2 linked regions of the Homo sapiens genome follow. The protein of the gene in region 1 interacts with the protein of each later gene in a pairwise test. Each region holds a gene or a part of one and is shown in the gene's direction. Other genes may lie near its edges.

Evidence for each region. Proteins that work in one complex are often made in the same cells at the same time.
Region 2: the proteins of GNPDA1 (region 1) and PRTFDC1 interact in binary tests that used the Homo sapiens proteins (3 or more experiments, as listed by UniProt).

What each region holds. Positions count from the first base shown.
Region 1 is NC_000005.10:142,009,948-142,017,647, reverse strand, and holds the start of GNPDA1 (glucosamine-6-phosphate deaminase 1), read left to right. Parts: upstream 1-4,620; 5' UTR 4,621-4,653; exon of another isoform or gene 4,654-4,898; coding exon of another isoform or gene 4,899-4,979; intron 4,980-5,308; exon of another isoform or gene 5,309-5,360; intron 5,361-5,606; coding exon of another isoform or gene 5,607-5,612; coding exon 5,613-5,736; intron 5,737-7,700. UniProt on the Homo sapiens protein: Catalyzes the reversible conversion of alpha-D-glucosamine 6-phosphate (GlcN-6P) into beta-D-fructose 6-phosphate (Fru-6P) and ammonium ion, a regulatory reaction step in de novo uridine diphosphate-N-acetyl-alpha-D-glucosamine (UDP-GlcNAc) biosynthesis via hexosamine pathway.
Region 2 is NC_000010.11:24,935,607-24,942,606, reverse strand, and holds part of PRTFDC1 (phosphoribosyltransferase domain-containing protein 1), read left to right. Parts: intron 1-170; coding exon 171-277; intron 278-5,239; coding exon 5,240-5,423; intron 5,424-7,000. UniProt on the Homo sapiens protein: Has low, barely detectable phosphoribosyltransferase activity (in vitro). Binds GMP, IMP and alpha-D-5-phosphoribosyl 1-pyrophosphate (PRPP). Is not expected to contribute to purine metabolism or GMP salvage.

The sequences.
Region 1 (7,700 bases):
TTTCCTTCAAGACAAAATCATTCATTTCATACAAATATTAGGCAGAATGTATCCAACCCGCAGCACCCACTTTGAAAAAATATGATGAGTCAATGAGACGATGCTTTAAAAACTTTTAGCACAGTGACCAGCACAGAGTAGATGGTCAATTACTTTGATCAAATCTTTTTATTAAATTTTTTTTTTTTTTTTTTTTTTTTTTGCCAAATGGGGCAGGGGGTTTTGTTTGAGACAGAGTCTTGCTCTGTCACCCAGGCTGCAGTGCAGTGGTGCGATCTCAGCTTACTGCAACCTTCACCTCCCAGGTTCAAGCGATTCTCACGCGTCAGCCTCCTGAGTAGCTAGGATTACAGGCACGTGCCACCACACCCGGGTAATTTTTGTATTTTTAGTGGAGACAGGGTTTTACCATGTTGGCCAGGCTGGTCTTAAACTCCTGGGTTCAAGTGATCTGCCCGCCTCTGCCTCCCAAAGTGTTGGGATTACAGGTGTGACCCACCACTCCTGGCCAGATCACATCTTAATAACAAGTTAGTGTGTGTCTGTGGCAGATTGTATTTTTTAAACATGGCCATACTTGTACATGTATCCCGTCCAACATGCTCTTCTTATAATATTACTGAACTTCTTACACAGAGAGATGGGGGTCTATGTTTTCTCTTTTTAAATCTGGATAGGGGCTTGTGATTTCTCCAACCCACAGAGCTCAGCAGAAGTGATGCTATATGACTTCTGAGACTAGGTCAGAAGAAGGATACAGCCTTAGCCCATCTTTGTCTCTTGATACGCTTGCCCTTGGAACCCACCGCTATGTTGTGAGGAAGCCCAGGCAACAAGGAGAGCCATGTGTGAGTGTTCCACTGACAGTGAGCACCTGTTGTCAAGACATGTGAGTCAATGAGCTTTCATACGATTCCAGCCCCAGAATTTGAGTCTTTCAGTTGAGGGGCAAGATATCATCGCCACTGTATCCTGTCTGAATTTCTAGCCCACAGAAACTGTGAGAAATAAGTCATTATTGTTGTTTTAAGCCACTAAGTTTTGGGGTAATCTGTTACACAGCAATAGATAACTAATAAAATATCCTTCCAGAATTTCCTCTAACTAGCTTCAGGGGAAAATGATATTTAATTATGTATTCACTCATTCACTCACTCAACCACGAAACCCAAAAGGGTATATTTGGCTTCAGACATGCTATTCTAGGGGGCTCAAATGATGTCATCAGAGTTCTGTGTCTCTCTTCTATTTGTTGTACCTTTCTGTAGCTCTAAGCTTTCCTCTGTTTTACGGCTCAAGATCTCAGGAGAAGTGTATTTTCCCCCAGTAGTGGCATAAACCCTAAGGAAGATCTGAATCACCTGCTCTAGCAGTGAGTCATGTTTTCAATTTCAAGTCACAGGAAATTCTCCTAACAATGATTTAAAGTTTAAGCCATAAGGACATTTACCATTTACTTAGAAGAAGTCCAGAAGTAGGAGGTCCCAGCACTAGTCAGATATCAAGGACATAAGTGTTTTCCCTCCTCCACTCTATCCTTATGCTTGGTGCCTCACAGTTACAACGTGGCCTCCCCAGCTTCAGTCATCACAACTGCCTTCAAGGCAGGAAGGAAAGGGAAGGAACCAGAAACCGCCAGTTTGTTTCTCAAGCACAGCACTTTTCTCAGGAAGTAAAATATCTAACCAGAAGCCATCCTCCTCCCTCATTGGGCAGAATGAAGTTACTTGGCCACCCCGTAGCTGTGGGAGAAGCTGTGAGAGTCGTTGACTTTCCAGTTTCTCCAGTGGGAAGCAGCAAGGGAGAAGGAGTCTCTGAATGGCTGCTGGGTTAGTGTCTTCCATGCCTGCCTGGCCTTGAACTAATCATGGCCAGAGCCATGGAGTCTCTAATTGGTTTGCTCCTAAGTCAAAGGGTAGGGCCAGCACCACACAAACTCTATGAATTGAGCAGAATTTGGGAGGTAACATCTGGTCAGGTTGTTTGCCCAAAGCAAGGGTGCATTAGAAGGTATAAAAATATCTGACCATACAAGAGTTGCAGAGTGTTCCATTGCATGGATAAACTCACAATTCTTTTAATTTGGCAACTTTAGTTCCAAGACAAGAGGATGGGAGGATAGGTGTGGGTAATAGTTTAAACACAGATGTGGAGTAGGAGGAGTACAGGGAGTCAGGAGGTTAGGGCTAGAGAGCATTTCAGTATGGTTAGAGAGTGGGCTGTAAGGAGGGTTAGGAGGAAATAAGGGGTAAGTAATAACAGCTGGCTGTGAATGCCATGCTATGCTAATATTTCATTTAATAGTCACAACAGCCACACGAGGGCAGTATTACTTAATTTCCACTCAATTCTTATGTTTCAGGTAAGAAAACTGAGACCTGGAGAAGTTGAGTCATTTGCTTGAATTACTCACTAAATAACCAGAAATTAGCCAGACCAGAATTGAAATGCAGGTCTTTCCGATTAGTCCCCACGCTGATCCAAGAGCCTCCAGGCTTCGCAGAGACCCTGCACTGGTTCCCTGCAGAAGGGGTAACTCAGGGGAAATGGGCTTAGTCACCAGAAGTCAGTCACTCTCCTCCTGGAAAGGTCTGGATGCAGATGCTGCAGACCTGGCCCATGTTATCAGACGTGATCGGAGATTGGAGTTGGAGCTTCATTGTGAAACATCTGCAGTCCTCAAGCTGAGACAACATTTCTGGCTGGGGGCGGTGGCTCATGCCTGTAATCCCAGCACTTTAGGAGGCCAAGGCGGGCAGATCACCTGAGGTCAGGAGTTCACGACTAGCCTGGCCAGCATGGTGAAACCCCATCTCTATTAAAAGTACAAAAATTAGCTGGGCATGGTGGTGGGCATCTGTAATCCCAGCTACCCGGGAGGCTGAGGCAGGAGAACTGCTTGAACCCGGGAGGCGGAGGTTGCAGTGAGCAGAGATCACACCACTGTACTCCAGCCTGGGCAACAGAGCGAGACTCCATCTCAAAAAAAAAAAAAAAAAGATTTCTGACTGAATTTAAAAATAAACAAAAACTACACCAACACCGAGCCATTCACAGCCTCTCAGGATTTGGAAAACAAAACAAAACAAAACAAAATAACACTGAGGCAAAGAGCAAGTCCCCCACACTGTAAAGGTATCAGCTCCACCATCTGGTCTCATCAGGGCCTCACCAGATGAAGCCTACCCCTAGCAAGCTGGTCTGGAGCTGCAGTTGGGCCCAAGGGCTGGGTGAGCGCCTGGGGCTGTCCACAGTGAGCAGATTCAGCAGAATTGCAGAACGTGGCCACCCGGCTGACTGAGGAAGGCCCTGTCCCGTGGGCATAAAGCCAGGATTCCTTTGGCCTTTTGCTGCTGGAGGAAAACTAGGCTGATTCAGAAGGTCTCACCACTGCTCCCTAGCACTGACTAAAGTCCGGGATGTCAGACTATGAGGTCATATATCACAAGTCTCTGTACGCCTTTGATCCCCAGTTTCCACATCAATAAAATGGCGGTAATCATATCTGACGATTGGGCGGGATTCTATGAAATAATGCGCACAAAGCTCTGGCAAAACCCTATGTAATGGAAGATGTTACTGATGACCAGCACTCAAGTCCTTCCTCCAGCCTCCGCATGGAAAGTTCCCAAGTGTCCCTAGAAGTCTGGAACACTCTAATGTTGACTGGAAAGAATAAGATGGATCTCTTTTTCTGATATGGAAGCGTCCCAAATCCAGTCATACCAGCTGGGAGGCAGTGCCCGCTAGCGGTAAAAAGCATGGATTTTGGATTTGGACAGATCCCCCTGAATTGAAGGCACAAGGGAAACCACTTGTGCCTCTGGCCAAGTTAATTTTTCTCTCCAAGCGTCAGTTTCTCCACCTGTTAAAAAGTAACGGCAAACCTACCTCACTGGAGCTTAATAAGGATTAAGTGAAATAATGCAGGTCAAATATCCGAGCCTTGATATATATAAGCCTCATGTGTATGTGTTCCCATTTATGTAAAATAACAGTGTAAGCATATTCAAAGAAAGCAATTCAGAATGTACTCTTAAACTAAGCAATGGTTATCTTGGTGTGGGGAGTTGGGGAAACCAGGGGCCTGCCTTTTTCTCTATTATATAATGCTGCAAAGTTTGATCTTTAAAAAAGGACATTAAAAAGCCCAATTGTACTTTAAACAACACAAGTTTTAATACTTGGGTAAATAAATGGCATCTAAACAAAGAAAGAAACTGAAGGCAGAGCCAGGCCCAACCCTAGGAGACTGAGGAAGCGATTCTGCTTTGCCTGCCCCCAGCTCAACCCCTGCACTAAAACCCCCCGGCCCCAGCCCCAAGGTCCAGGGGGTTGTATTCCTGGGGGCGACCCGGCGCCCCTCAAGTCTCCCTCCTCTTGCACACACACACACACAAACCAGACTCGAATCCCCGCCTCCCAAGGGAAAGTGTTTTTTAAGGTCTGTTCCAGGGCCTGCCGGGGCCAGGGACCGAGGTGGGACTGAGTGGCCGGAACTCCTCCACCTGGGAGAGTCGGTCCGGGTAGCTGCGGCCAAGCTGAGTCAGCCCGGCGGGCGGCGCACGCGGCGCCGCGTGACCCGCAGCCACGTGACCCGCGCGGGGCCGGGCCGCCGGCGCAGTCGCTGCAGCCGCCGCGGGAGGCGTCCGTGTAAGTGGGTAGCAGGGCTGGCGGGGACCTTCCTCGCGGGCCGGAGCGCGGAGCGCTGCCCCAGCCCTACGGCACTCGGGGTCGGGACCCCGGGGAGCCGCCCTCACACATTTTCCAGGAGGGATCGGAGGGGCGATGGGGTGGTAATGGGGGTGGGGGACACGCTGTACCCCACCGACGACCGCGCGGGCCACCTTCGCCTCTTTCCTTCACACTCCCACTAACCGCAGTGCTGGGGGAACAAAATGTCCTCCTTCTGGAGCGATTACCTTTTCCCTTTTGTGCTTTGGGGGAAACTGAAGACCCAGAGGGGTTCGCAAAGCAAGGTGGGCCAGTAGGAAGACCCCTCCGCTAGTCCAGAGAGAGCACACAGCTCCCCAGGCAGAGCTCATTGCCCCACCTGCTCTAGTGGCCCAGCATGATCCCATGACCTCTCTACTTCTGGAGGAAGAGTCTTGGGGTAGACGGCGGGGAGGGGGTAGGGTATCCCGTTCCGGTAGGGGCAGGGATGAGGGAGGCGGGGCTGAGCCGAGCATCTATCTGGATGGTAACAGCCAACGTAGAAAATACTAAGTTGTTTACATGCATTCTCTCATTTCATATTACCCGTCGTGAAGTCTGTGAAGTAGGTACTATTGTCCCAATTTTTACATAGGAGGAAACGGCTCAGAGAGAACTTAGGTCCTTTGACCGAGGTCCTGCAGGTGGTAAGTGAAGGAGCTGAGATTAGAACCCAGATCTGCCCCCAGTGGCGCCTCCTCGTGGTCTGTGGGTGGTGGAGACGACTGGCCTAGCCTCTTAGCTCCTCTGTGAATAGAAAGGCCTTTTTCCTGGCTCAGACAGCTTGGGAAGGGGATTGTTGCTGGGTAAGAGAAGCTTCTCCCACCACCTCCATCTCTTTCTCTGCCCCTTACCATTGATTCCTTTCTGTCATCCCCTCTCCCCCACTGCAGGACAAGATGAAGCTCATCATCCTGGAGCACTATTCTCAGGCGAGCGAGTGGGCGGCTAAATACATCAGGAACCGCATCATCCAGTTTAACCCAGGGCCAGAGAAGTACTTCACCCTGGGGCTCCCCACTGGTGCGTTCTTGGATGGAGAGGGTGCCGTGGATAAGGGTGGAGAGAGTAGGCAACAGGGGCCAGGTACACCGGCTCACTCAGCCAAGGGACTTCACGGGGGCTCTGGGGTACTGGTGCTGAGAGAGCACCTTCCTGCCCCTTCCACATACAAAGGACCCAGCTTCCCTTATGGGTTGGTTTAGTCGCTGCCTGTCCCTGCAGAATCCTGGAGCAGAAGGGATCTTGGTTGGCAGGAAGAATTTGATTTTTAGGCTACATCCTAAGTCAGCCCTGTCCACCAGGGTTTCTTAACAGAATTAAGTCCTGATACCCTAAGGCATTCATTTTATGTAATGAATTAATTTCTCTTCTCTGCATCTAGAGGGGTACCAGCTAAGTACCATCCTTGGGAGAATTGAAAAGATAGTCACTTAGGTAATTTTCTGTAAGGCTTAATTAAACACAGGACCTAAATAAAAAACAGTTCTAATTTCTTTTGGAAAAAATCAAAATGTTGCTTTTTCAGAAAGATATTTTGACCCCAGCTCCTCAAGACAAATGTCCTGATTATTTCTTTCAGAGATGGATGGGTTTGCCCTAGTGGCCCTACCTGACCCATCCATTAGCGTGTCTATGTGTGTGTGTGTGTGTTGGAGGGGTCTTCAAACTTGTTCTTTTTCCTTTTTTTTTTTTTTTTTGGTCTTCCTTGCAGTCCAGACTTTTTCTGTAAATGGCCAGTAGTAAATATGTTAGACTTCACTAGCCATATAGTCTCTGTTGCAACAACTTAACCCTTCTGTTGTTTGAAAGCAGCTATAATTAGCCTGGCATGGTGGCGCTCACCTGTAGTCCCAGCTTCTTGGGAGGCTGAGGTAGGTGGATTGCTTGAGCCAGTAGATTGAGGCTGCAGTGAGCCATGATTGTGTCACTGTACTCCAGTCTGGGTGACAGTGAGACCCTGTCTCAAAAAAAGAAAAGACAATATATAAGTGAATGAGTATGGTTGTATGCCAATAAAACTGTATGGACACTGAAGTTTGAACTTATATAATTTTCACATGTCACAAAATATTATTCTTCTTTAATTAAAAAAAAAACTATTTAAAAATGTAAAAACCAGGCCAGGCATGGTGGCTCATATCTGTAATTTCAGCACTTTGGGAGGCTGAGGTAGGCAGATTGCTGGAGCCCAGGAGTTTGAGATTAGCCTGGGCAACATGGCAAAACCCCATCTCTACAAAAAATAGAAAAATTAGCTAGGCATGGTGGCACATGCCTGTAGTCCCAGCTACTGAGGAGGCTACGGTGTGAGGTGTGAGTATTGCTTGGGCCAGGAGGTCGAGGCAGTGAACCATGATTGTGCAATTGCACTCCAGCCTAGGTGACAGAGCAAGATTCTGTCTCAAAAAAAAAAAAAAAAAGAAAGAAAAGAAAACCATTCTTAACTCATAAGCTGTATAAAAACAGGCCACAGGGCCGGGTGTGGTGGCTCACGCCTGTAATCCCAGCACTTTGGGAGGCTGAGGTGGGTCGATCATTTGAAGTCAGGAATTTGAGACCAGCCTGGCCAACATGGTGAAACCCTGCCTCTACTAAAAATATAAAAATTAGCTGGGCATGGTGGCGGGCACCTATAATCCCAGCTACTCAGGAGGCTGAGGCAGGAGAATCAATTGAACCCAGCAGATAGAGGTTACAGTGAGCTGAGATTGTGCCACTGCACTCCAGCTTGGGTGACAGCGATACTCTGTCTAAAAAAATAAAAAATAAAGGCCGCAGGCCAAATTTGGCCTGTGGACCAAAGTTTGCTGAGTTCTGCACTAGAGGTTTGTGGGAGTAGTATCCACCTGTGCCTGTGAAACTACCAATGTCTCAGGCCCTCGGAGGCTGTGCTAACATCCTGTCTCCTAACTGTGGAGAGACCCAACCTCTGTATGGGTCAGAGTCTGGCCTTCTGAAACCATTCCCTCGTTCCCATCATTGCA
Region 2 (7,000 bases), on another chromosome or scaffold:
TCTGTTCACTTTAGTACTGCGCCTTGTATCAGGTTGTGGAAACAAATAACCTTGTTCCACTAAACTTTTCATAAGTTGAGGGAATTCTCCTCTCAAGTGATACTCTTTTGTTATGTTTTAAACAAATTTCTGATGAAAAAATACCATAACCAAAATAATTTGATTTGCAGATTATGGATGATTGGCCAGGGTATGACTTGAATTTATTCACGTACCCACAGCACTATTATGGAGACTTGGAGTATGTCCTCATCCCTCATGGTATCATTGTGGACAGGTGAGTGTGATTTCCTGTGTCAATCTTGGTCCTGCACTGGGCCGGCCCACACTTGTGTGAATCCCACAATATACTTTAGGACCCTATTCCTGAGCTGCGTTTTATAGTGGTAGAGAGAACTTTTATATAGGGCAGTGAATTTGGAATAAAATGAATGTATGCTTAAATTGAATGGTTTACCTGGACATTTGTTCAGGCGGTATGGTAATATGGTAAGAAGGATATACATACATAAGCTATTATAAGTAACAGCCTCAAAATAACAATGTCCTAAGATGGCTTTTCCGTGGCAAAGAAGTCCCACCCTCACAGAGGGGGGACGTTCCGTGATCAAATAAACTTTGGAAATTTTGTGTCTTCCATATTTTTGTCTCTCAGTTGACAAATCAAAACAAACATTAGCATATTGAAAATATGGAAATTCCAGCCAAAAGAAAAGAAGAACACAGAAAAGAAACCTGCTTGACTTTAACAATTAAAGCAACCTTTTTTTGTGCAAAGGGAGACTTTGTACTCAGTTTACCTATTTACAACTCTCAGAAGAGATTTCCCTTAATACCAGTTTGGGAAGCTCCTAATTTAAACAAATTCTTGCATTTCTTACCTGAATTTTCTAATTTAAAATTAATTTAAAATCAGTCAGAACATGATTGACTCCTGGGTAGGGGGTAGGGTTACCCTAAGCCTTTTCTTTGTACAAGAGAATCATCCAGTAAACTTGTTAAAATGCATATTCTTAAGCTTTATGTCTAGAAATTTCAAATCGATATTCTAGGGTGGGGCCCAAGAATGTCCGTTTTCACCTTTGAAATAAATTTATAAGCCAGGGGCTATGGCATGCACCTGTAATCCAGGCTACTCCAGAGGCTGAAGTGTGGGGATCACTTGAACCCAAAAATTTGAGACTAACCTGGGCTAATCTCAAATACTGAGATCTTGTCTCAAAAAAAAAAAAAATTAAGATGTAATTTACAGGGCTGGGTACAGTGGCTCGTTCCTGTAATCCCAGCACTTTGGGAGGCTGAGGCAAGAGGACTGTTTGAGCCAGGAGTTTGAGACCAGCCTGGGCAATGTAGTGAGAACCCGTCTCTACAAAAAAATAAAAAACATTAGTCAGGCATAGTAGCACAGGCCTGTAGTCCCAGCTACTAGGGAGGCTAAGGCGAGAGGATCACTTGAGTCTGGGAGGTCAAGGCTGCAGTGAGCCATGATCACACCACTGCACTGTAGCCTGGGGAACAGAGCGAGACCTTGTCTCAAACACACAAACACACACACACACACACACACACAAGATTAATTTATATACTACTGCACAAAATTCACCCATTGCAGGTGAACAACTAAATGATTTTTAGTAAATTTTTATGGTCAGGCAACCATCAGCACCATCCAGTTTTACATTTCCATCATCCCCAAAAGTTTGTTTGCAGCCAATCCCTGCTCCCACTTCCAGCATCTTTTTCTATAAATTTGTCTTTTCTGGCCATTTTGCGTAAGAAAATCGTACAATAGCTAATTATTGATTGACCAGTTGATGTACATTTGGATGTCCCATTTTTGGCTATTGTGGAAATGCTTCTATAAACATTCACATATAAGTTTTGTGTGGACATATCTTTTCATTTCTCTTGGATGGATTTCTCATTGTGGAATTCTGGGTTTTCTGGTAAGTGTAAGAAACTGCCAATTATTTTCCAAAGTGGCTGCACCTTGTTACATTGCCACCAGCAGCATATGAAGGTTTCAGTTTTTCCACATACTTGCCAACATTGAATATTGTCTGTCCTTTTGATTATAGCCATTCTTGTGGCTGTCTAATGGTATCTCACCGTGGTTTTAATTTGTATTTTCCTAATCATTAGTATACTTGTTAGCTATTCATAAGCCTTCTTTGGAGAGAGGTCTTTTCAAGTCTTTTGCCAATTTTTAAATTCAATTGTTCATCTTCTTATTGAACTATAAGAGTTCTTTATATATTTTGGATAATAGTCCTTTATCAGATATATGATTTGCAAATATTTACTCCCAGCCTATGGTTTGTCTTACTATTTTCTTACTGGTATCTTTTAAGAAGAATGTGTATCCTGCTGTTGTGGGGTGAAGTATTGTATATGTGTTAATTAGATCCAGTCAGTTGATGGTGCTTCTCAGTTCAACTATATGCTTACTGATTCTCTGACTGTTGGACCTGTCAATTACTGATAGAGGGGATGTTAAAGTCTCCAAATAGTGCATTTGCCTGTTTCTCCTTGCAGTTCTATTAGGTTTTTGACACTTTGTTTTTAGGAGCATATATATTAGGAATTGTTATGTCTCTTTGGATAATCGACCTCCTTATTATTGTGTAATGATGCTCTTTATCCCTGCATATTCCTCACTCAGAAGTCTGCTCTGTCTGAAATTAAAATAGCTACTCCAACTTTCTTTTGATTAATGTTAGCATGGCATGTCTTACTCCATCCATTTAATCTATCTGTTTTTATATTTATATTTAAAGTGAGTTTCTTTTTCTTTTTTTTTTTTTTTTTTTTTTGAGATAGAGTCTCACTCTGTCACCCTGGCTGGAGTGCAGTGGCACAATCTCGGCTCACTGCAACCTCCAACTCCCGGGTTCAAGTGAACCTCCTGCCTCAGCCTCCCAAGTAGCTGGGATTATAAGCATGCACCACCACACCTGGCTAATTTTTTGTATTTTTAGTAGAGATGGGGTTTCACCATGTTGGCCAGGATGGTCTTGATCTCCTGACCTGAAGGGATCTGCCTGCCTTGGCCTCCCAAAGTGCTGGGATTATAGGTGTAAGCCATAAAGTGAGCTTCTTGTGGGCAATATACAGTTAGATCTTTTTTTAATCCACCCTGACAGTCTGTCTTTTAATTGCTATATTTAGACCATTCATATTTAAAATGAGTATTGATATAATGTTTAGTATCTATCGTATTTATAACTATTTTCTATTCATTGCTGTTGTTGTTTCCTTTTTTGTCTTCCACTCTGTGAAATTCTACTTTTTTTTTTTTTTTTTTTGAGTCAGAGTTTCACTCTTATCACCCAGACTGGAGTGCAATAGCACAGTCTGGGCTTACTGCAACCTCCGCCTCCTGGGTTCAAGTGATTCTCCTGCCTCAGCTTCCTGAGTAGCTGGGATTACAGGCGCAGACCACCAAGCCCGGCTAATTTTTGTATTTTTAGTAGAGATTGGGTTTCACCGTGTTGGCCAGGCTGATCTTGAACTCCTGACCTCAAGAGATCTGCCCACCTCACTGTGTGACTTCTGATGTCTGTGAGGTTTATTTTTCTCTTGTTTTTATTTTTAAGCCTCACTTACTAGGGATCACCCTGTGTTTGAATAGCTTAGTGTTTGGCCTACAATTGGTTAGAAGTTGTGCTCAAATACGTCAAGCCAGTAAGTCTTCCACTCTCTGCTGATGGGGGTGTGTGGGGACTTGAAAGTAGATTCAAATTTCCAACCATTTTCAAATCTTTCGATGTTTACTTTCCCCTGAGCTTTCTTGTGCCTTCTCTGCACATGTACACAGCCTTCACTGTCCAGGGATGTGTGGGTGGCTTGAACTCACTCTGCTGTGCATATGTACAGCCTCTGGTCAATTGAGATGCATGAAGAACTTATTGTGTGCCCCTGTTCTATGACTGTCTAACCTCCTCCCTGGAACTTCCTATCAAATCCCCAGCCAGCCTGCCAGTGCACTGCTCAGCGGTGACTGCACCTCAGGATAGTGGAGCCCTGCCACCAAGGTGACCATTTTAGCTTACAGTGTTCCCTATCAGGTGAGCTCCCTCTGGCAGTGCACCACCTTGGTGGAACTGCCTGTTTGAACAACAGAGCTGGGGATAGGGGCTGGGGGGTAATAAGAGCATCCCCACACAAGAATGCCCCAGACTCATGCTGTTTCCACCCAGTGTTCAGGGTTTTCAGAATTAAATGCTTCTCAGTTTGTTGTATGCCTTTGGTTGATTTCCAACATGATGAGATGGTTGTTTTTGGCAGTTTTGCCCAGTTTTATAGTTGCTTTTCTGGAGAGGATGTGTTCACCTCCTTACTTCATCATGTTGGAAACAAATGTTCTTTTTTTTTTTTTGAGAAGGAGCCTTGCTCTGTCGCGCAGGCTGGAGTAGTACAGTGGTGCAATCTCAGATCATTGCAACCTCTGCCTCCTTGGTTCAAGGGATTCTCCTGCCTCAGCTTCCCGAGTAGCTGGGATTACAGGCACCCGCCACCATGCCCGGCTAATTTTTGTATTTTTAGTAGAGACGGGGTTTCACCACGTTGGCCAGGCTGGTCTCAAACTCCTGACCTTAAGTGATCTGCCCATCTTGGATTTCTTAAAGTGCTGGGATTACAGGTGTGAGACACCACTCTTGGCCCAAATGTTCCTTTTTAAGGAGCATGCCAGATATTCTGATGTACATTTTTTATGATCGTGTGTCTTCTTTAGAATTCAGTAAATACTGCCAGGCATGGTGGCTCATGCCTGTAATCCCAGCACTTTGGGAAGCCAAGGTGGCCAGGTCACCTGAAGTCAGGAGTTCGAGACCAGCCTGGCCAACATGGCAAAACCTCGTCTCTACTAAAAATACAAAAATTAGCTGAGCATAGTGGCAGGCGCCTGTATTCCCAGCTACTTGGGAGGCTGAGGCAGGAGAATCACTTGAACCCAGGAGGTGGAGGTTGCAGTGAGCCAAGATCGTGCCACTGCACTGCAGCCTGGGCAACAGAGTGAGACTCCATCTTAAAAAAAAAAAAAAAAAAAAGCAGTATGTTTTGAACACCTTATGTTCAACCTTAACAAAGCTTTTCTATCGGTGGGTTTCTGTTTCCCAAGGTTTTCCCCACATTCCTCTGAGTAATCGAATACGTACAATACATCTTGCATTTCATTAAAGCAACATAAATACTCAGAAGTAGTTGTGCCTTAATATATCTTTTATCCTTCTTTCAGAATTGAGCGGCTGGCCAAGGATATTATGAAAGACATAGGATATAGTGACATCATGGTCCTGTGTGTGCTTAAAGGAGGTTACAAATTCTGTGCTGATCTCGTAGAACACCTTAAGAACATCAGCCGAAATTCAGATCGATTTGTCTCAATGAAGGTTGATTTCATCAGACTAAAAAGTTACAGGGTAAGTTATTACAAGTTCCGCTTTATGACATTTCATTTAACAATGCTTTAGGATAAAAGAATCAATAATGTTATGAAAATGAAGAGTGCAATTTTTAAAAATGGAGATGAAAATGAAGGGTAATTTTAATTTGCAAGAATACGGCAACCTAACATAAGAATTCAAATGATACTATTTAGGGCGTGGGGTGGGGACCTTCTCTCTATTTTCACATATATGGGAAGACTCAGCAGTAATGATTTGTGCTTTCTTTTATGGTGATAAAGTGAGTGGTTATATCCTGGTGCCCAGCCCCACAACTGTGTGTGGTCAGAGTGTGAACACTGATTTGTTTTTTCTACTCTGGATGTCACTATGGGTCCTGGGGACCTATGGGAGGGTGTCCAGCCCAGAGAGGAGTCTTAGTACTTGGGTGGCTGCAGTTGTGGCCTGGAAGTAAAGAAGGGAAGGCTATAGGGACAGCACATTGCCAAGTGTGAGGAAACAAGGCCAGGGAGCTCCAGCAGAAGGCCCCTCCACCAGTTTACTCCATTAATTCTGTCTTTCTGTGGGCACCACTGGGCAGAATTAATGGAATTATTCTCCAAAGATGTTTCCTAACCAGATGCAGTGGCTCATGCATATAATCCCAACACTTTGGGAGGCCAAGACAGAAGGATCCCCTGAAGCCAGGAGTTCGAGACCAGCCTGGGCAACATAGTGAGTCCCTGTCTATATACAAAAAGAAAATTTTTAAAATTAGCTGAGTGTGGTGGCATGTGCCTATGGTCCCAGGTACTCAAGAGGCTGAAGTGGGAGGATTGTTTGAGCCCAGGAGACAGAGGCTGCAGTGAGCTGTATGGCACCACTGCACTCCAGCCTGGATGACAATGAAACTCTTGCCAAAAAAAAAAAGCTGTTGTTTCCTTAGTCTCCCTCCTCCTCCCTCTATGATGTTAACTTCTTTGATGCTTTTTGATTTAATGCATAGTAAAACATTAAAAATAACTTACTATTGGGTGAGGAGCTCTTGGAGTCAAACCATGAAAATATTCTCGTTGACTAAACTAACTTGACACATTTTAATTCATGAATCACTCTTTGAATTGGCCTTCTATTGCTGTGTGGCAAACTCACCACAAACGTAGTGGCTTAAACCAACATACACGTGTATTATCTTAAAGTTTCTGTAGGTCAGAAATCTGAGCATGGTGTAGCTGAGTTTTCAGCTCAGAACCTTACAGGGATGAAATCAGTGTGTTAGTTGGGATTTTGATATCATCTGAGGTTTTCAAGATCACTGACTGTTGGCAAGCTCAGTTCCCATTTCCTTGTTGACTGTAGGCTGGAGTTGGTAGACTCTCCACTCCTAGGGGTTGTCCCCAGGTGTTTGCATCAATTACCCCACAGGTCGTTCACAACACCATTAGCTGTTTGCTTCTTCAAGTCTGACGGAATAATCTTAGCCCTTCTTTTATAGCTCACCTGATTAGATCATGTTCACCCAGGTAACCTGCCTTTTGATGAACTCAAAGTCATCTGACTAGTCACCTAATCTTTGGTGCGAATTCCCACCACGTTTACAAGTCTTACCCACA